4 linked regions of the Homo sapiens genome follow. The protein of the gene in region 1 purifies or fractionates together with the protein of each later gene. This does not show direct contact. Each region holds a gene or a part of one and is shown in the gene's direction. Other genes may lie near its edges.

The links.
Region 2: the proteins of TMEM171 (region 1) and TTYH3 purify together in Homo sapiens (affinity purification with mass spectrometry; 3 studies listed by BioGRID and IntAct, with this or other methods). This does not show direct contact.
Region 3: the proteins of TMEM171 (region 1) and SLC25A24 purify together in Homo sapiens (affinity purification with mass spectrometry; 3 studies listed by BioGRID and IntAct, with this or other methods). This does not show direct contact.
Region 4: the proteins of TMEM171 (region 1) and MTX3 purify together in Homo sapiens (affinity purification with mass spectrometry; 3 studies listed by BioGRID and IntAct, with this or other methods). This does not show direct contact.

The regions. Positions count from the first base shown.
Region 1 is NC_000005.10:73,126,479-73,131,394, forward strand, and holds part of TMEM171 (transmembrane protein 171), read left to right. Parts: intron 1-1,911; coding exon 1,912-2,053; intron 2,054-4,916.
Region 2 is NC_000007.14:2,637,681-2,642,596, forward strand, and holds part of TTYH3 (protein tweety homolog 3), read left to right. Parts: intron 1-4,916. UniProt on the Homo sapiens protein: Calcium-independent, swelling-dependent volume-regulated anion channel (VRAC-swell) which plays a pivotal role in the process of regulatory volume decrease (RVD) in the brain through the efflux of anions like chloride and organic osmolytes like glutamate.
Region 3 is NC_000001.11:108,196,933-108,202,570, reverse strand, and holds the start of SLC25A24 (mitochondrial adenyl nucleotide antiporter SLC25A24), read left to right. Parts: upstream 1-2,227; 5' UTR 2,228-2,432; coding exon 2,433-2,615; intron 2,616-5,638. UniProt on the Homo sapiens protein: Electroneutral antiporter that mediates the transport of adenyl nucleotides through the inner mitochondrial membrane. Originally identified as an ATP-magnesium/inorganic phosphate antiporter, it also acts as a broad specificity adenyl nucleotide antiporter.
Region 4 is NC_000005.10:79,984,152-79,989,067, reverse strand, and holds part of MTX3 (metaxin-3), read left to right. Parts: intron 1-423; coding exon 424-606; intron 607-752; coding exon 753-829; intron 830-1,960; coding exon 1,961-2,118; intron 2,119-3,408; coding exon 3,409-3,497; intron 3,498-4,916.

The DNA.
Region 1 (4,916 bases):
GCCAGTGGCCAATTGCCTCTGTGGTGTTTCTTCATCATGCAAATCAGTGCCCTCGGCTGGTGTTGAGCTGAGAGAGTTGGCTCTGTGCTCCGCACTGTGTTCACTGCCAGATGCAAATCAGTCCATCTAGTCCTTCCTTCTATCTGTCCTGTGATGCAAGAACTGCCTGGCCTGCAGTTTACAGCTGTGGCGGCTGAGGTCAAGGAGGTCGCCTAGCTTGTTCAGGTTGGAACCCCCATCACTTTAAAGAATCCTATGCCACCCTAAGCAAGCATCAGACATGCTAGGAGTGTGAACCACTACAGGGAAGTAAAGCCCCATCTTCTTCATTTTTTCTGAACTGTTATTGCTATTGCCAGCTTCTCAGAGGCTTTCACCAGGCCCCCAGCAGTGGTGCTGCCAGAGCTCTACACTGTTCTGGTCCACTTGTGTGGTGCATTTTATATTGGAATCGGAATACAAATTAGAGTTTGCATCTGGTCCCTAGTTTCTCCTCAAAACATGAGGATGTATTCTGGAGTGAACAGTAGCCACAGAAATGCAAAAACCAAACTTCTTTGGGTTCAACCTTCATCTGTATGGGTGAAATTTTGGTAAATAACAGTTAGGGGCTGTAATATGGCTTACTGTCATTTGCTCAGGGGCTGAAACTACATTTGAGGAACAAGGCACTTTAGCCAACAGCTAACTTGTGAATTAAAGTTGTAGGCTGAAAACGAGAAAAGCTTTTTCAGCAGTAGACACCCCAGAGGAGGGAAAGGAGCTTGTTAGCAAACAATTCACAAAAAGGCTTGGTCTTAGACTTGCTACAAAATATAGACCTGCTTTCATACCATAATTGTCAGCACTCTGGATTCTGAAATGTAGGCCTACTTTTAAAAAATTTGTGGTAAAAAAAAAAAAAAAATATATATATATATATATATATAAAGCATAAACAATTTAAACTGCTTTTTGTTTCGTTTTGTTTTGTTTTGAAACAGAATCTCACTCTGTCACCCAGGCTGGAGTGCAGTGGCATGATCCTGGCTCACCACAACCTCTGCCTCCCGGGTTCAAGCAATTCTCCTGCCTCAGCCTCCCGAATAGCTGGGATTACAGGCGCCTGCCACCACGCCTGCCTGATTGTTTTTTCTTTGTATTTTTAGTAGAGACAGGGTTTCGCCGTGTTGGCCAGGCTGGTCTTGAACTCCTGACCTCAAGTGATCCACCCGCTTCGGCCTTCCAAAATGCTGGGATTACAGGCGTGAGCCACCACGCCTGGCTTTTTTTTTTTTTTTAAGACAGGGTCTTGCTCTGTCACCCAGGCTGGAGTGCAGTGGTACAATCATAGTTCACTGCAGCCTAGAACTCCTGGGCTCAAGCAGTCCTCCTATCTCAGCCTTCCGAGTAGCTGGGACTGCAGGCGTGTACTCCCACATCTGGCTAAATTTTTTCTTTTAATTTTTTTGAGATGAGATAGCGCTGTGTTGCCCAGGCTGGTCTCCAACTCCTGGGCTCAAGCGATCCTTCCTCCTCAGCTTCCCGAAGTGGTGGGATTATAGGTGTGAGCCACTGCACCCAGCCAAACCGTTTTTAAATGGTTTAGTGGCATTGAATACAGTCACAATGTTGTTCAACCATTATCATCATCAATTTCTGGAACTCTTCCATTATCCCCAACAGCAACTCTGTACTCACCAAACAGCAATTCCCACTCCCTTCCTCCTCCCGAACCCCTCCTAGCCCCTGGTAACCTAGTCTACTTTTCTATCTCTATACATTTAATGGGCTTACTTTTAAATTTTGGAGTTAGCAGCAGGTGTGTTGACCTTTTATATAGATGGGCCAAATATATAATTAATTTTGCTTTTGCTAATTTGCTTCCATTTATTACCCACCTGTTGTCAACTAAATATTGTTTTGCCTTAGGTGACTCGGTAATAATATTTCCACCCCCTCCACCACCTTACTTTCCTGAATCTTCAGCTTCTGCGGTCGCTGAGAGTCCTGGAACTAACAGTCTGCTTCCGAATGAAAACCCCCCTTCATATTACAGTATTTTCAACTATGGGTAAGAATTTCAATTTGAACTTCAAGAGAGGCCTGAATTCAGGCCACACTAGTATTAAGGCTGTGTGGTTCACCAGGAGGCATTCAAGTGTGAGTATCTTTTTTGCTGATGTTATGTCAGAATTAGTGTCTTGATATTAACAGTACCTTTGCCGAAATTTGGGCAGCACATAAGTTAAAAATGATAAAGTGATCATGCTGGGTTAATATGAAGCCTACTCCAGGCATCTATCTTTATGTGCTCCTAACAGGGGTGATACTCAGAATGTTTAACAACCCTTGCCGGGTGCTGTGGCTCACACCTGTAATCCCAGCATTTTGAGAGGCCAAGGTGAGTGGATCACTTGAGCTTAGGAGTTTGAGACCAGCCTGGCCAACGTGGCAAAACCCTGTCTCTACGAAAAATAGAAGAATTAGCTGGGGATGGTGGTAGGCACCTGTAATCCTAGCTACTCGGGAGGCTGAGGCATGAGGATCGATTGAACGCAAGAGACAGAGGTTGCAGTGAGCCTGTTACCGGCGGAGGGTGTCCACGTACTTTGTGTTTTGAACAAAGAACTGGACAAAATGCACAAACGAAGCAAGGAAAGAATGAAGCAACAAAAGCAAAATTTTATTGAAAATGGAAGTACACTCCACAGGGTGGGAGCAAGCCTGAACAGCTGCTCAAGGGCCCAGTTCCAGAATCTTCTTGGGTCCAAATCACCCCTAGAGGTTTCCCATTGGCCACTTTGTGTTCACCTCATGTAAATGAAGTGGTGGCCCACAATCCGTCTGATTGGTTGCAGAAAGCAGCCAATCAGAGGCTGAAGTGAAGTTACAAAGTTGTTGTCCTATGCAAATGTCTGATTGGTTGCAAAAAGCAACCAATTAGAGGCACTTTCAATTTCCCATCTGCCGAAAGGTGGGTGTTTGCAAAGGGAGTAGTCTTTGGTCCTTTTGTTACTCAGGGGTGGAAAGTTAGGGTTTTCCTTTCAATTTAGTTCTAGGAAGTCAGCGTGAAACGGCCGTAGATTCCCTGCCTCCACACCCTATTCTTCTGCTCCAAGCCGAGATCGCGCCACTGCACTCCAGCCTGGGCAACAGAGAGAGACTCTATCTCAGGGGGAAAAAAAAGAATGTTTAATGACCCACCAATCAGACTGAGCACCAGGACTGGGCCAGGAGGCCCCTGCTATGCTAGGCTTCACTGCTTTAGATCATGGAGAGGTGTGAGGGTCTCAGGGGATCCCCAACAGTTACAGAAGGGCTTTAGTACTCTGATGGCCGTGCTTGGGTGACTGGCTAAAGTCAGCCTGAGCCCCGATCCAACACAACTGGGCCTCTCCTTCAATATTCGCTCCTTCCCTGGGCCGCAGAGAATATCAGGTCAATACCCACCCCACACAGAATGCAGCGAGGCAGGCTCTAGTGGGACGGGCCTGAGGTGCCAGGAGCCTGGGGGAGGGGGTCTGGATGGAGAATGACATTGAGGAAGAGGCGAAGATGATGAGTTCCAGGGTGAGTGACAGGGAAGCTCAGAGGTCCCCAACTGAGAAGACGTGAGTGATGAGCTTGGTTTCGGTGGGGAAAGGATGGTGGGCGGCTGATGGTGGCGGTACAGTGAGATGAGGGCCTTGGAGGCAGACTGGGAAGGGCTGGGTTTTGGGAGAGAGAGGAGGTGATGGAGATGGAGCTGCAGAGGTTGTTGGAGAACCAGAAGGGCAAAGAGTCAGGGACTAGTGGGAGACCCCCAGGAGGGGCTTGTGCATACCCCAGAAATGGTGTGCTCAGGGAGCAGGGCTGGAGAAGGCTCTGGTGGTACCTTCTAGAATGGGAAACCAGGGTTTAGGAAGGGAAGGAAGAATTGCTTCACATTGTCACAGGGTGAAGCAGGTAAGACAATGAGATATGTGCATTTTTGCATGCAGTGAGCAGCAGGCACAGAGAGACTGGTGCTCATTGCTGGGGATAGCACCACCTTACCTTGTTATTCGTGTTTAAGGAACTCCCTCTCCACCCTGCCTTGACAGAGCAGGCAGTGGGCCTTGGAGCAGGGGCCAGGGTGCCTTTTCTCTGGGGCCTGGAGGGAATGAAGTTGTGTAGAGATTCTTTTCCCACAAAAGCAGGGGGACAGGTTATCTGATGGGAGAGGGAAAGAGGTGGCTGACAAGGACAGAATTGGCTTTACAGCTTCATATGGGGTCGTGATGGGGGGATCCAGGGAGGTGCATGTGGGAACGGCCCTGCATGGAGAAAGGGCAGGCTAGGGCTGGACCTCTGTAGAATTCTCATCGTGAATGTTTGTATTTTTTTTCTTCTAATGATAAACTTCCCCAAACCCTAAAATCAGTGTCTAGTAACTTAAACTACTGCTGCTGCTACTATGATTTCTGTGTCCTAGGGTCTGGCTTTTCTTGCATTAGTTTATGTAACTCCCATATCCAGTCTAGGAGAAAGGAATGTTATCATCTTCATTTCAAGATAAGGAAACTGAGCTTTAGCAATGTTAACTAACTTGCCCAAGATCACACAGCTGGGAAGCAGCAGAGTAGATTCCAGTGCAGGTTGGCCTTTGTTAGAGCCCACTCCATTAGCCAATATGCCTTCCTGCCGTCCTTCAGGTTTGTGGCTTAATGTTTTAATTTTCCATATGCAAAAGTTTGTCTACCTTATGTTAGCTGTCCCAGAAGACAGAATAGCAGAGAACAGTAAGTGTGTGTGTGTGTGTGTGTGTGTCTATGTTCTCTTTGGATGGTGTCTGTAAATTTGTTTTCAATGTCTTTTCAATGACAAAGGGAATGACAGCAGGAGTGAGACTGTCTTAATGTTACACTCAGCTCTAGGAAAAGGAAGAGGTAAGAAATCAAAACAAATCTATGAAA
Region 2 (4,916 bases), on another chromosome or scaffold:
GTGGCCACCGGGGAATTGGCATGTGACAGCGGGTGGATGGTGGGTGTGGGAGGGTCACAGGAGGGCCTCCTGTACCCGGGCCTGCCGCTATGTTCTGCAGGGAGCCCACCCAGGCCCTGTGCTGGGCCTCACACCATCCGAGGGGGCTTCTCACAGTCTTGGGAGGCTGGCTGAGACCTGAGTCCTGTGGGGCAGCACCCACTGTGGCTGGGTCAGGCCCATGTTGGCCGAGGGTGTGGGAGGAAGCCGGGCCACCCACAGAGTGCCAGTGCCTTCGGCCTCTGAGGAGGGTACCAGCCACAGTGCCCCTAGCCGTTCTGCCCCCCTCGGGCCTGTGCACGCTGGCTGGGTTCCTGGCCATCGTGGAAGAGCACTCCTGAAGTTCTGGGGTGCACCCAGCTCTGAGCCCTGCAGCCCTGTGTCTGGGGTTCGGCCGTGCCCTCTGGGCTGCCTCTCCCTGGTAGGGAGCTGATCCCGGAGATGGGGCTCCAGTCTGGCGGCTCCTGGCTGGGTCTGAGGCCTGGGGCCCGGTCCCCAGGCAGCTGGTGCAGAGGGCTGCAGACAAGTGGGAAGAGCAGGGGATTTTCCGGGTGTCACGCTGGGAGATGTGTCGGAGCACGGGGACCAAAATAGACACGCTTGCTGCAGCTCTTTGGTGTCTGTTCCTTGCACGAGGGGGAGGGCGGGCGTGGGCAGCGGGAGAGCTGGGGTCCCCCGGCTACAGGGTGCAGGAAAGGGGCCCGGCCTGTGGGGAGACGGGCAGGAGCGGCTCTGAGCCTCAGCCCCAGGGCTGCCTCTCTGGCCTCCTTCCAGGCCATTCCTGGAGGGTGAGGGCCAGCCCGGAGGGAGCCCCGGGGGGTGTGGGGCCATGTGCAGCCTGGCGACCTGGACCTCGGACCTCAGGAGTTGGGGACAGGGACACAAAGTTGGCCCCGACCCCGGCTCCCACGTGGCCGCTGCTGGCTGCACGTCCTCCAGGCACGGCCAGGAGCTCACCGTCATGGAATGCGTGAAACCCAAACCCAGCCTGGTGGAAAATCTGTTTTTAATTTTGGGCCAGTGTCGCTGGGAGCCTGGGCCGAGTGTGCTATGGGTAGGGGCTGGGGCCACGTGTCCAGCTTGGCCGCATGGGGGGCTGAGGCCTAGCCAAAGACTGTGACCCTGGACCCCCCACTTGTGCAAGGGGACCCACGAGGCAAAGGTAGGGGGACCCACTTCCCAGTGGCGGGCCCCTGACATGGGGGTGGTGGTAGTGGCTCGCACACGCCGAGCCCACCCTGGCCTCCCCAAACAAGTCTGGGCCCTAGGGATCCCGCCCCTTTCCTGACCCTGGCCCAGGACACCTGGGGGGTTCTCACAGTGCTGGGGGCCAGAACCCCTCGGTCTGCACTGGGGTGTGGGACCCCAGCCAGCCTCTCAGACACCCCCAAACCTTGTTGCTTCCTCTGGAGGAGGGGCCTTGGGAGTTCCAGGGCTGGAGTTCAGCATCCGTGGAGGCAGGTGGGGGTCACTCCCCTCCCACTCCCACCTCTCGCCTGCCACGTCCTCCCGGAGCCCCGTGCTGCTGCCATACGCACAGGCTCAGGCCAGGGCCTGGCTGGTCCCTGCTGCCAGTGTATCTTCGGCATGCAGGAGACGTTTGCCGCCTGGACCCTGTGCCAGGCCTTGGCTGACACTGTCCCCGGGCCAAGAGTGCCCTCCCCCACCTGTTGCGGTACCCACGATGCTCCCCACAACGGGAGTTTCAGTGACCGCCTCATTCCTCTTCCTGCCTCCCACAGCCTCCGAGCTCACGGGGCCAGCACTGTGGGCACAGGGGAGCCCCCGACCTAGCGCGGCCGAGCTGTCTGTCCAAGCCTGGGCCCCAGCACCCAGCGCAAGCTGCTGCTAAGATGCCCTGGAAGCTGATGCTCCCAATTAGCCCGGAGCCCAGCCAGGACCACAGCCGTCAGTGTGGGGACTCCGTCCCCATCCAGGAAGCCGGGGGTGACTCTGTCCCCACTGCAGTCAGGCTGTGTGGCCGTTACCATATTGTGTGTCTGTCACATGCCGGCACCTCTGGTGGGGTTCTGGCCCCTCAGTGGCCTCTGTGGAGCCTGTCCCTTTCCCTCCTCCAAGCTGTGTCACTTCCACACGGAGCTGGCACGAGGGGCGGGGCAGGGCTGGAACCCACCTTCTGCCCACCCCTTCTCTGGCCACCGGGGGCTGCTTCTCCTGCCACCCCTGCTCACCGTGCCCCGTGGCTGCACCCCTGGGGCTCGCTGGTCTCTCCCAATGCCTCGGGCAGCCATCATCCTCAGCTGTGGTCACGCTGCCTGGCCTGCCAGCTCACCCGCCCCCGCTGTGTGACTGTGGACTCTGGAACTCCCTGTGCCTAGCAGCGTGGCTCCAGGACACGGGCCCTATGTCTTCGCTTCCCTCCCTGCTCAGGGCAGACCCGCAGCAGTGTCCAGCCGAGGAGCGAGCAGCCGTGGCTGGAATGGCAGGGTGGTGGGATCGTGGCCACTGCCTGTGGCTGGGGCTGGAGGCTGCATCGGGCCAAACTTCTCATCAGAGTCCCTGTGAGCACCCCCCAGTGGGCCAGGGCCTCCTCAGCCCAGCCACGCGCCACGGTAGCCCACAGGTTGGTGGCACAGAGCGGCGTGTGGGTCCGTGGCGCAGGGTAGCGGGGTGGGCAGCTGCTCCCAGGCGTGTGCATGTAGAGCAGCCGCCTGTGTGTGTGTGGGGGGGGACGTGTGTTCCATAGGCCGGCCGTGACTTGCTGTGCACCCTCCCGAGTGGCATGCTTCCTCACACGCTGCCAGGCCCAGGTCCTGCCACCAGGTGCTCCGGGAGCCACCAGGATGCCCAGCAGCAGCCACCTGTGCAGGTGGCAGGCAGTGTGCCCTGCCCTGCTGTCATGCATGGCCCTCCCACCTTGGCAGCCTGGTGTGGTGTGGCCTGTGCTGGCGCTGAGCCTGGCATTGCGTTGGGGGGTGCCTGTGTCTGTGTGGCTGATGGGAGTCACGTCCAGACAGGGCCTGGAGGCAGAGTGGGCATGGCCAGGAGGCCGCGGCAGGCGTGGGGCACAGGCCTCACAGCTGCTCGTGCACGTCGTCTGCTCAAGTGCCCCGTGGGCCGTCCTAAGGCCTTGTGGCTCACTGGGCCCTCCCTTCTCCAAGCAGGGCTGGGTTGGGGCCACCCACCTGTGCAGGCAGCCAGGTCAGGTTGGGGGTCTCGCCTTACAAGTGCGGAGCCAGCCGAGGTTCACACAGAGCAAAGGCTGCAGCACCGGGTTTGGGCCTGGGTCTCTAATATCCTGGGGACATCCTGGAGGAGATGGCCTGTGTATGGGGACAATGGGGCTTCCCTGAAGGGGAAGGCTCCAGGCCCAGGGACAGCATATGCCTGGGTGTAGAGGCCACAGAGCCCTGCCCCGAGCCACACCCCAGCCCTGCCCGCTCCTCACCAGCCAGTGCCCCAGGCATCCCTGCCAGGCCAGGGAGGTCTTGCTCTGGCCCAGGGTATACTGGGATCCTATCGGTAGCAACCTGATCTGGGACAGAGTAAGGCTTCAGGCCCCGGCTCTCTGGCTGGCTGGGTGTTTCCAGAGTTGGTGGGGTTTTGGGGGCTGCATTTTGGGGGCTGCGGGGCAGTCGGGGGAGTCTGGGCTCACGGTGGGAGGGGGCATCCCCCATGGATGCCGTCTGTGGCTGTGGGGCTGCAGGGGCTTGGAGAAGGAGGGGGTGGCCCAGGGCCGAGACCAGGAGCCCTAGGGTGGGGGCAGGGGGACTGAGGCTGCAGGAGGGGGTCGCCCCCAGCCCCCTTGGCACATGTGTGGCAGTTGAGTCCTCTCCGTGTGCTCCGCGGAACCCAGCGTGCAGTTTTCGCCTCGCCTGACCGAGCCCTTACATCACTTCCACCACAGACGGAAAATTCCATTTGGTCAGAGCCCAGCTGCTGATCAGACAGTTCCCATTCTTTCTCTGAATGGGCCAGGGAGGGGCGGAGGGGCCGCCAGCCCGGTGGAGAGAGGTGGCTGGGCCACCGTAGGAATGCCGCTGGCCCGGTGCCCCGCAGGAGACCGTCTGCTGGGAATCTGGCTTCGGGAAGTGGGTGCAGAGGCCAGGCTGGCCACGGCACGCTCCCCGCAGACAGCTGGGCTCAGGCCTGGCGCGTTGGGTGCCGGGGCTCTGACGTGGGATGAAGCAGCTGCCCGGTTTGCTGAGCACCCTGACACCCAGGCTCTGCATGCTCGCAGTGGTGGGCTGGGACCCGGGCAGCCCAAGTGGGCTCCCTTTGAGGGAGGCGCCATCTCCTTCCTCAGTTGGGGGAAGCCAAGTGAGGCTGTCCTGGCAGGGGCCCCGAAGCCTGGCCTCTGGCCCCCAGGGGCTGAGGAGCGAGGCTCCGTTTGCAGCTGGCCCCATCCAGGCAAGAACAAGAGAAAGCTGCCTCAGCCAATCGCGGTGCTCACACCTGTAATCCAGCACTTTGGGAGGCCGAGGCAGGTGGATTGCTTGAGCCCAGAAGTTCAAGACCAGCCTGGGCAACATAGCCAGACCCTGTCTTTACAAAAAATTTTTTTAAAAATTAGGGCAGAGGCCAAGCACAGTGACTCATGCCTGTAATCCCAGCACTTTGGGGGACCGAGATGGCAGATCACCTAAGGTCAGGAGTTCAAGACCAGGCTGGCCAACGTGGTGAACTCCCCGTCTCTACTAAAAATACAAAAATTAGCCAAGTGTGTTGGTGCATGCCTCTAGTCCCAGCTACTCAGGAGGCTAAGGTAGGAGAATCACTTGAACCTGAGAGGTGGAGGTTGCAGTGAGCCGAGATCATGCCACTGCACTCCAGCCTCAGTGACAGAGACTCTGTCTCAAAAAAAAAAAAAAAAAAAAAAGAAAGAAAGAAAAAGAAAATTAGCCAGGCGTGGTGAT
Region 3 (5,638 bases), on another chromosome or scaffold:
AATGCTCATCCAGGGTTCTTGTATAAGTGCAATTCTTACTTAGTGGGCTTGGGCAGGCCTGAGATTATTTCTGACAAGCTCCCAAGTGACACTGATGCTGCTGGTCTGTGGCCCACACTTCATAAACGCTTTGATTTTCACAGTAACACTGATGTGACACCAATGCTGCTGGTGTGTGGCCCATACTTCATAACTATTCATAAACTGTTTTGATGTTCACACTGATCTTTTGAGAATTTTTATTCCATTTTACTCATGCTTAAGTCAGATTTATTGATATCCCAGAGTAAATTAACCCATGTTAGTGTGCAGTTCTGCTGGCACACACATGCAGTTGTGTAACCACTACCACCAAAAGCAAGATGTAAAATAGCTCCATCACCCCCACAAGCCTTCTGATGCTCTTTTGTCATCAATTCCCTTCCCGCTAGTCACAACTGGTAACTACTGATTTGTTTTCTGTCCCTATAGTTTTGCCTTTTCCAGAATGTCATTGTTGACAGGTATCAGTAATTCATTCCTTTTTATTGCTAATTACTATCTCACTGTATGAATGCAACACAGGTTGTTTACCAGTTCACCCGTTAAAGAACATTTTGTTTCTGCGCTTGACAGTTATGAATAGAACTGCTATAAACCCTCAAGTAAAAGTTTTGGTGTGAAGATAATTTTCTCAGCAAAAACGCTGACAGGTAATTTTTCTAAGTATTACTTTTTTAAAAAAGTAAAATAGCCTGTAGCCCCAGCTACTCAGGAGGCTGAGGCAGGAGAATAGCTTGAACCCAGGAGGCGGAGGTTGCAGTGAGTTGAGATTGTGCCACTGCATTCCAGCCTGGGCGACAGAGCTAGACTGTCTCAAAGAAAAAAAAAAAAAAAAAAGAAATAAATAAAAAGTAAAATGAAAGCATGTAAGTGTAAGATGACTAGTTCAAGCAACCTCTCTTCAAGTACAGAGTATTCAGAGTAGAGATTAAAAGAGGTTTTCAAGGACAGAGAAAATTTGAAGTTTGAAGGCAGTTCCAAAGGAAGGCAATGATTCTTAATAAGACTGGAAGTTGGAAGTAATATAAAAAGATAAATCAGTTTCAAGATGATTTTACTAAGCAGGCAGCCCTTAATTTACAAATTCTAGATTCATACATATCTTAAACATACAAAATGATATGAGGAGAGGTAAGTTCAGGGTCTGAGTTCCTGGCTGTTGTTGGAACTGATTTCTGTGTAGTGATTCAGAAGATGTGAGACACCCTAATTTACAAGTACAGAGGTATCTTCTTTTCTGCAAACAGCAGTACAACAATAGTTCCTCTTACGCAGCTGTGAATGAACAGGATTATTACAATTAATGATATCTCATTTGATTGGCGCCTTAGAGAATTAAGACCTTTCACACCTAATATACAACTTTGTTGTGAAGGCAGATATTTATATTCTCATTTTACTGATGAGAGACTACCCGGAGACGCTATGTCACACCTGAAGGATTAGGTACTTTCTCTGTTAAGTCCAATGTTCCTTCCGTTATTCCATGCTAGGCAGTAATAAGTTCTGTCTTGCCTGAGTAATAAGCTCCAAACCTCGGAACTGCACCCATCTTGAGAAGGAGGAGGGCGCTGTGGTTTTTTCTGATAAGTGCAGCTGGCAGACACTCTATACGCTTAATCACGGGCAAATCCTAGCTAAGCTGCCTACCAAACTAGTCCTTCTTTTCCCCGTTGCCCACGCAGATGGCTGTTGATCTTTTCTGCAACAAATCCAGGAGTTTCTCCTTTTTGTTTTATAATTGCTCCAATAGATGCTTTAGGATTTAACTCTCTGCTTTTTAAAGCAGAATCGCCATCCCAGGTGTGCAACCACGAAAAAATTAGACATCCGTGAGAGACAATGCCCTCCATGGCCCAGTTTCCAGGCAGAGAGAAGCAGCTCTGGGCTGACCGCCAAGGCTCCGGCCCGAGAGGGTCTTTAAGTGGAGTAACCAGTCTTCAAGACCCCGCTCCCAAGCCACCGACGCGCTGACGCTGCAGCCCTGGACCTGCTGGGGGCCTCTTCCTCGGACCCGCATGCTGACAGCGGGACTGGCAACTGGGCAGAGGTCGACCCCGGGTCCGCACAGCACCTCCCGAGACCCAGCTCCCAGCTCCCTCACTTCCGGCTCTCTGGAGGCGGGCCCGGCCAGTGCCGCCGAGGCCAGCGCGGCGAGCTCCTCCCCAGCAGCGGCGGGACGGCCACACCCTGCGCTCCGCGCGGGCTCGGGTGGGGTCTCCGCTCCTGCGCCCTGCGCCCTGCGCGCCGCAGCCGCAACCCCGACGGCGCCCCAAACGCTGTTGCGCCGCGCGCCCCGCCCAGCCCGGCCTCGCGCTGGTCCCGGTCTCGCCCCGCAGCCCTCGATCTCCCGTGACTTCCTCGGCCAGGCCGCCTGCGCCTCTGGGACCATGTTGCGCTGGCTGCGGGACTTCGTGCTGCCCACCGCGGCCTGCCAGGACGCGGAGCAGCCGACGCGCTACGAGACCCTCTTCCAGGCACTGGACCGCAATGGGGACGGAGTGGTGGACATCGGCGAGCTGCAGGAGGGGCTCAGGAACCTGGGCATCCCTCTGGGCCAGGACGCCGAGGAGGTGGGTCGCCGCCGGGGCGCCGCCTGAGCGTAGGGAGGGCTGCGGGCGCTGGGGACACTGCGAGGACCGAGGAGGGCGGCGGCTTGAGGCGTTGCCAGGAGAGGAAGGAGGAACTGTGGCGCCCAGCGCTCCGGTGGCTTCAGAAACTCGGGCGTGGGGCCGCGACCGGCGACCCCGGTAACAGAAGTGGGTCATAATACGAAAGTCTACTGGTATTTGTCCAGATAAAATGAGTGTTGTGGACACTCTGGCCCACGGGCACTGTTAAATTTTTAAGACACTTTTGTCCTGAATCCATCCCAGGTTCTTTGTTTTCTGTTTTAATACCTTGCAGACATGTAATCCGTTTTAGCTGTCAGACTTCAGTGGGTCCCAAGTTTTGTATAAAGGCGCACACATTCGATCTCTTTCGAAGCTGCTTTGTTACAGCAGCTATGTGTATTGTCTACTGTTTGAAAACTGTTTGAAAACCAATCGCGTGTTTCCCCCACTTCCTGTTGAGAAGGAATGGCGGCATTCCATTGTTTAAGACATTCCTAGGTTAATGCCCTAGGTACATAAATTGATCTGAAGGGTTGACTTGACCTGCGACTGAGCAATTTCATTTTCTCTGAGTCATCTTAACTGTGCCCCTGAACTTCTGCCCCTTTAGTAGGGTGGAGATATGTGGAACTTCTCCAACCCTGTTGAAGCGTTCCCTGACACTGGCATTCTCTTATCCAAAGAGGGAAAGTGATTAGGTTACTATGAGGGCCAACAACTGTTATATAGTTATATTTCACTTCTCTTTTAATGTCTTTGGTAGTTATAGGCCTCTTCAGTTTACTGTTTCTTCTAGAGTCAGATTTAGTAAGTTACAATTTTTTTTGAAACTGCCTGTTCTGTCCAAGGTTCATAATACTCACCGATGATTTTATAACACTTCTGACTGAATCTGTAGGTAGGTTCTCTATTTCATTCCTCATATCTATCCTTTTCTCCCCTTCAATCTTGCCAAAGTTTTGTGTATTTTATTCATACTTTGAAGGAACCAACTTTTGGTACTTTGTGCTGATTGTCCCAGAAATGGCCCAGTTGGAGTTCCCCACCATGTCCAATCATTGGCTGGAAGCAGCCCAGGAAAGGGACGACCTTGCTGCAGTGCATCAGCAGATGCCAGGGTTAGAGGCTAGAGAGTGGAAGTCAACTGTGTTCCTCACAGTAGGTGCCTTTGAAGGGAGATCTCAGTGGTACAACTCCATGGTCCCTACAATATACAAAAGCTCTTTGGAGTGCTCAATGATTTTTAAGATTGTAAAGGGATCCTGAGATCAAAAAGCTTGAGAATTGCTGCTGTATCACCATTTTTACGTAACTGCATCATATTCTGTTATATGTTTGTGTCATAGTATATGTTACCAATTCTTTTTAAATCACCTTTTACTTTATTGATAGTTTAAAAACGATTGTAAGTGAAATTGCAATGGATGTCCTTTGTATTCATTTTCTCATTCTGGTCCAGTTACTTTCGTAAGATAAATTTTGAGGAGTGGACATTGCTGAGTCTGAAGGTAACACACATTTTAAACTGGGATACGTATTGCCTTTCGGAAACCTTAGACCCATTTTCACTCTTTTGACTGACAGTGCTTGCTTCTCCACATCCTCGCTCATTCAGGGTATCAGTCTTTGTAAAGTCTCCTATTCTGCAGGTGAAATTCCTTTTCATTTCCTGTCTTAGTCCATTTAGTGTTGCTATAGTGGAATATCTGAGACAGGGTAATTTATAAAGAAAAGACATTTATTTAGCTCACAGTTCCGCAGGCTGGGAAGTTTAAGAAGCGTGGTGCTGGCATCTGCTGGACTCCTGGGGAGGGCTTTCCTGCTGTGTCACAACATGGTGGAAAGTCAAAGTGGAAGTGGACATGTGTGAAGAAGCAAAATCCGAGGGGTGTCCTGGCTTTATAGCAACCCAGCCTCGAGGGAACTGATCCATTACTGAGGGAACTAATTCAGTCTCATGAGAGAGAGAACTCACTCACTACTGCAAGAATGACACCAAGCCATTCATGAGGGATCTGCCTCCGTAACCCTGACACCTCCTGCTAGGTCCCTCCTCCCAACACGGCCACATCAGGGATCAGACTTCAACATGAGTTTTTGTGGGGACAAACAAAACGTAGCACTTGCTTTGCCTTTTGGTTCTATTCACATCCTCCACAGGATTGCATTATGCCTACCCATTTGGTGAGGGCAGTCTTCTTTAATTGGTTTACTGATTCAAATGCTACCCTCCTCCAGAGACATCCTCACAGACACACCCAGAAATCATGTTTTACCAGTTATCTGGGCATCCCTTAGTCCAGACGAGTTGATACATAAAATTAACCATCACACATGGGATAGAATTAGGATTACACAGTCAACCTTTATGGGAGAAAATTTCAGAGGCATGTCAGGGGTTTATGTAATGTCAAGGAGTGAGGACATTGGCTACTTGAGCATAGAAATGAGAACTGTGGGGTGACTCTTCGGTGGAAAGTTTCAAGGTAGTAGTTTGTATCTAAGCCAAATACTCAGCTTGAAGCAAAATCTCTATAAATTTTCATCTGATTTGATCTCATCTCCGTGTTTCCAAGCATTTGTAATGAATTGAGCATTTAGAAGAGAACAAATTTCTGTTTAAGTTTCTTTAGATTTTAGATGGAAAGAATGTAGAAATAAGAGTAGAATGTAGAAATAGGTATAAGGAATATAATAGCTAACCATTACTAAGTGTTCCAGAATTATCCAGGGAAGAGAAAAGAATTCAAGGCAAGTCCTGAGACAAAATTAAGAACCAATTGGAAGTGAAAGCGCTACATTTTTTTTTCTGGTATGACCTTTCTTTTCTGTATGTTCCAAATCTCCTCACTATGAAATTAGTGAAAAATTAAAGTTAAAAATTAGAGAAAATTCACATTAAGTTCTCCTAGGACTCAGTAGTATAAGGGTATAGACTGAGAGTAGAATGTAGTGTGAGAACAAGGAGATACAGTATTTAA
Region 4 (4,916 bases), 6.9 Mb from region 1:
TCTTAAGAGAAAATTTTACTTATATGTTAATCTTAATTCCTTCATATTACTGTGAAACTGGATTCTGTTAGGCATTCAACTAGTATGTGAAACAACAAAGTAAAATAAAATGTCATGTTGGAAATTCTTTGTGGGAGATGGATCTTTTTGCTCCATGTATAGAATTGGGTGTAATTCATTCATTCAACAAATGTTTATTGAACACCTGCTATGTGTCAGGCCTTGTTCTGGGTGTTTGGAAGATAGCAGTCAACAAAACTCACACATTTAAAATAATCTTGTTTTATCCTGAGTCATTCTAACTGGAAAATTTGTATGAAGACACTTCATATAAAGATATTTATGAAAAACTCTCATGTTGATTGAGTGATCTTTCATTTAATAAAAGAACATCCTTGTAGTGTTTTTTCTCTTCTTTTGCAGCTTCACACATTCTGGGTTGAGAGTGACAATTACTTTACTGTGACAAAGCCATGGTTTGCTTCACAAATTCCTTTTCCTTTGAGTTTGATCCTGCCTGGAAGAATGTCTAAGGGAGCACTGAATAGGATTCTCCTGACCAGAGGACAGCCTCCCCTCTACCACCTCCGAGAAGTGGAAGCACAGGTATAGTATGGATTATTCTTCAAGCAAGGGCCCTAGAGAGAAAGGACAAGATAAAATGCAGACTTGAGTTTACCTAGAGATGCCTTCCTCAAAAGTAGTTTTAGAGTATCTTTTCTACTTTTGAGATATAATTTCATCCTTATTAGATATACAGAGATGCCAAGGAGTGCCTAAATCTTCTATCAAACAGATTGGGAACATCTCAGTTTTTCTTTGGAGATACGTGAGTATTCCCTTAAAAATCATTTTGGTATTTTGTGCACATATATTCAGTGAGCAGCTATTTAAAGCAAGTCCTCTTATCTCCCCAAAAGATGAGTTTTTTACTTAAAAAAAACAAGATTTAGGCCGGTGTGGTGGCTCATACCTGTAATCACAGCACTTTGGGAGGCCGAGTTGGGCAGATCACCCGAGGCCAGAAGTTCAAGACCAACCTGCCCAACATGGCGAAACCCCATCTCTACTAAAAATACAAAAAATTAGCTGCGTGTGGTGGTGGGCACCTGTAATCCCAGCTACTTGGGAGGCTGAGGCAGGAGAATCGCTTGAACCTGGGAGGTGGAGGTTGCAGTGAGCTGAGATCACGCCACTGCACTCCAGCCTGGGTGACAAGAGTGAAACTCCATGTCAAAAAACCAAAACAAACAAGAAAAAAATTTAATGGGCTTTTATTATAGGAAACTTTTTCTACCAGTGATAATCTAACATTGACTTAATAGGCTGCATATGTGAATTTAAAACATCTCAGACTGTTCCCACTCTGCCTCCAGTCTAACATTTGTGAGTAAAAATGAATCTATAAAGACAATTTCATTTTCTCCTAGAGTCTAAGCTACTCAATGAGTAAAACCTTGGTTGCATAATTTTTGTAAACTGAAATGGATAGTAAACCTTTTAAGAGACTATACTGTGTAATTCAGAATTGAGAATTTTGAAAAAAAAATTAAACACCATCCCAAGTTAGTATTTTCTTATGTGCTTAAAAAAATCCTTAATTTAATTTTTTTTTTTTTTTTTTTTTGAGATGGAGTCTTGCTCTTGTTGCCCAGGCTAGAGTGCAGTGGCATGATCTTGGCTCATTGCAACCTCCGCCTCCTGGGTTCAAGCAATTCTCCTGCCTCAACCTCCCAAGTAGCTGGGTTTACAGGTGCCCACCACCACGCCCGACTTCTTTTGTATTTTTAGTAGAGACAGGGTTTCACCATGTTGGCCAGGCTTATCTGGAACTCCTGACCTCAAGTGATCTGCCCCCGCTTGATCTCCCAAAGTACTGGGATTACAGGCATGAGCCACCACACCCGGCCTTCAGTTAATATTGTCTTATGTGCTTTAAAAATCCTTAATTTATTTCTAGGCCTTCTACCTTGGATGCCTATGTTTTTGGTTTTCTTGCACCTCTTTACAAAGTACGGTTTCCTAAAGTTCAGCTACAAGAACATCTGAAACAGCTCTCCAACCTCTGTCGCTTTTGTGATGACATCCTGAGCAGTTATTTTAGGCTTAGTCTTGGAGGTAAGCTGGCTCTTTTTCAGCTAATGTTTGTTTGCATATTCTCCTATGTATGTATAAGCAAAATCCACTACTTATTTTAATTTTAGAAGTTTGTGTATTGTCTTTAAATAGTGGTTTATAGCACTTCAAGGATTTGTGTTTTTCCGACTTCATTTTTATTCTCATGTTAGTTCTTATTTAAATAGATAAATAGATATTTGCCTTTTATCTATTCCGCTGGATTTTTACGTTTCTTCTTCTTGTTCTTTAAATATTACCCCTTTGAAGTGGGTCATTTTCTTCTAAAAGGTTAAAACCACAGGTATTAAGTCTTTGCTGAAAAACAGTATTTATCCTAATGCAAATGGACAATTACTTTAAATGATTTTTACCTGCTGCTTCTAGCATTTTCCTGCATGAACAGAAATCAGCAGCAGATTGATTTTGGTGAGGTACACTGCCATGATTCCACTACTTGAAAACTGATTGCATCAGAATGGAAGTATAGTAAATAGAGGGCACCTGTTACTTAGGATGTGCTTCATTGAGAGAGTGGAGCCTTGTGCTTAAGTGATTCAGATACTAAATTTCTATTGGGATGGTTGGCTGAAATTGTCCTTTTAAGAAACAGGTTATAAAGATAGCTGGCTTAGGTGGACAGTTTATTATTTTTTGGTGGGTTATGTATTCTGTATACAGGAAGGGGTTAGTAGTTTGGGAGTCATGAAATTAAGTAATGTTCAACCGTGTTAACTTGGGAGCAGTGGTTAGCAAACCTGATTATTTGACAGATAAAAAATCTTGGGTCCTATTCCAGACTTACTAAATTAGAATCTTTTAGGCATCAATCCTAGGAATTTGTATTTTTAAGTTCTTCTGAATACTTTGGATGTCTGGTGGGCAACTTTTTGGGAGTTACTGCCTTAGAAAACTATCCAGATAGTTGTGACCAAAGACCTATTTGAAATGGGTGTGAGAAAGGAATAGCTTAAACTTGAGAAGGAAATGAGGACTACTGTGCTTTTTTTTTCAAAAAAAAAAAAAAACTAATTATTGTGGCCAATTGCAGAACACTTGGTTAGCAGTGTCTACTTAGTGGATAAATTTTTGTCCGTTTTGCTCAGGGTTTAGTTTTAGAGCATTCGAATCCCTCTCTTCGCCTTTAAACCCAGAATGGTTTTCCTCTTTGCCTTTTTTGGGGAGGGTGGGGCACTGGACAGGGTGGGTAGACTCAAAATTCTTTCAATCTAAATAGCTTTAAAGGCTTTAAAAATTTCCTGTCTTTCTCTGATTTCTGTCCTGGCTTCTTAGGCATCTCTCCAGCTGGACAAGAAACGGTAGATGCAAATCTGCAGAAACTCACACAACTTGTAAATAAGGAATCCAACTTGATTGAAAAGGTCAAGTCTACTTCAATCATTTTATCATAGTTCAGTATTTTCCTTTCGGTAGCTAATATTGTCATTTGGGTCACACATTAACTGTACCCTTTTAGTTTTTTTTATAGAGTTTGTTTTTCAGAAAACTGTTTAAATATACTTTCACTAAAGTTGTATGTAACATAGTGTTTTGAAGCCAACAGTGGCCTGATTGGGGAAAGATCAGATAAGAGTATTGGGTTTACTTTTGCCACACAGTTAGTACCCTTTAAGCTAGGAAATCCAAAAGATTTGCTTTAAAAAAACAAAGCGGCCGGGCGCGGTGGGTCACTCCTGTAATCCCAGCTCTTTGGGAGGCCGAGGCGGGCAGATCATGAGGTCATGAGATCGAGACCATCCTGGCTTATACGGCGAAACCCCGTCTCTACTAAAAATACAAAAAATTAGCCGGGCATGGTGGCGGGCGCCTGTAGTCCCAGCTACTCAGGAGGCTGAGGCAGGAGAATGGCATGAACCCGGGAGGCGGAGCTTGCAGTGAGCTGAGATCGTGCCACTGCACTCCAGCCTGGGCAACGGAGCGAGACTCCATCAGAAAAAACACAAAAAAAAACAAAGCAAAAACACTTCTTGCTTGTGTGTCTGCCTCTCTGTCTCTTAATGTTTCTTAAGATTGTAAGCACTGGGCTTATCCTTTCTTATTAACAGCACCGTGTTCTTTTCTTCTTTCCACATGAAAGTTTTATTTTTTTCTCCTTCTTGTTCTTCTCTGCTCTAGATATAGTTTATAGTTTTTTCACCAGTGTAGATATTTTGCCACTTGGGGTGTTCTTTTCATGAGAGAAACATTGAGGAACTGGGTAGGGGAGAGAACCAACAAAGGAAATTTCAAGTGTGATTCTACTAGGAAAAATACAAAGAGGTTACATATTTTTTCCCCTGTAACTGATAAGCTTGCTTTTTTTTTTTTTCCTGATACAAATAGTAATACTTACTATTTTACAAACTCATAGGGCAATGAGGCCTGATGACACTGGCTAACAGTTTTTGAGGTCCACCACTGTGTTATTTGAGCTTGATGTGGGTTACCTCATTTAGAAGTGATCCAGTGTTTGGAAAACCACTGGATTACATTTAAAGAATTTATCTTTCTTTTTGCCTAATGTACTAGCTTCCTTTGGTCTACATATTCTCAGTTTTAAAAAGCTGGTCTTTTTTGATTGGAATACAGGTCATTTTCATTGAGGTAAAGAAGTATAGTTGAAAGAATAATAGTTTTGGAATCAGAAGACCTGGGTTCAAGTTTCAGCTCTCATACTAGCTTGTGACGTGGGGCAAATCACTTAACCTTACAGAGTCTCGTTTTGCTCATCTGTACAACAGAGAAGGTCTGTGTCTGCCTTTTCTTCATAGCGTATCGGGAAGATCAAATAAGATACTGTA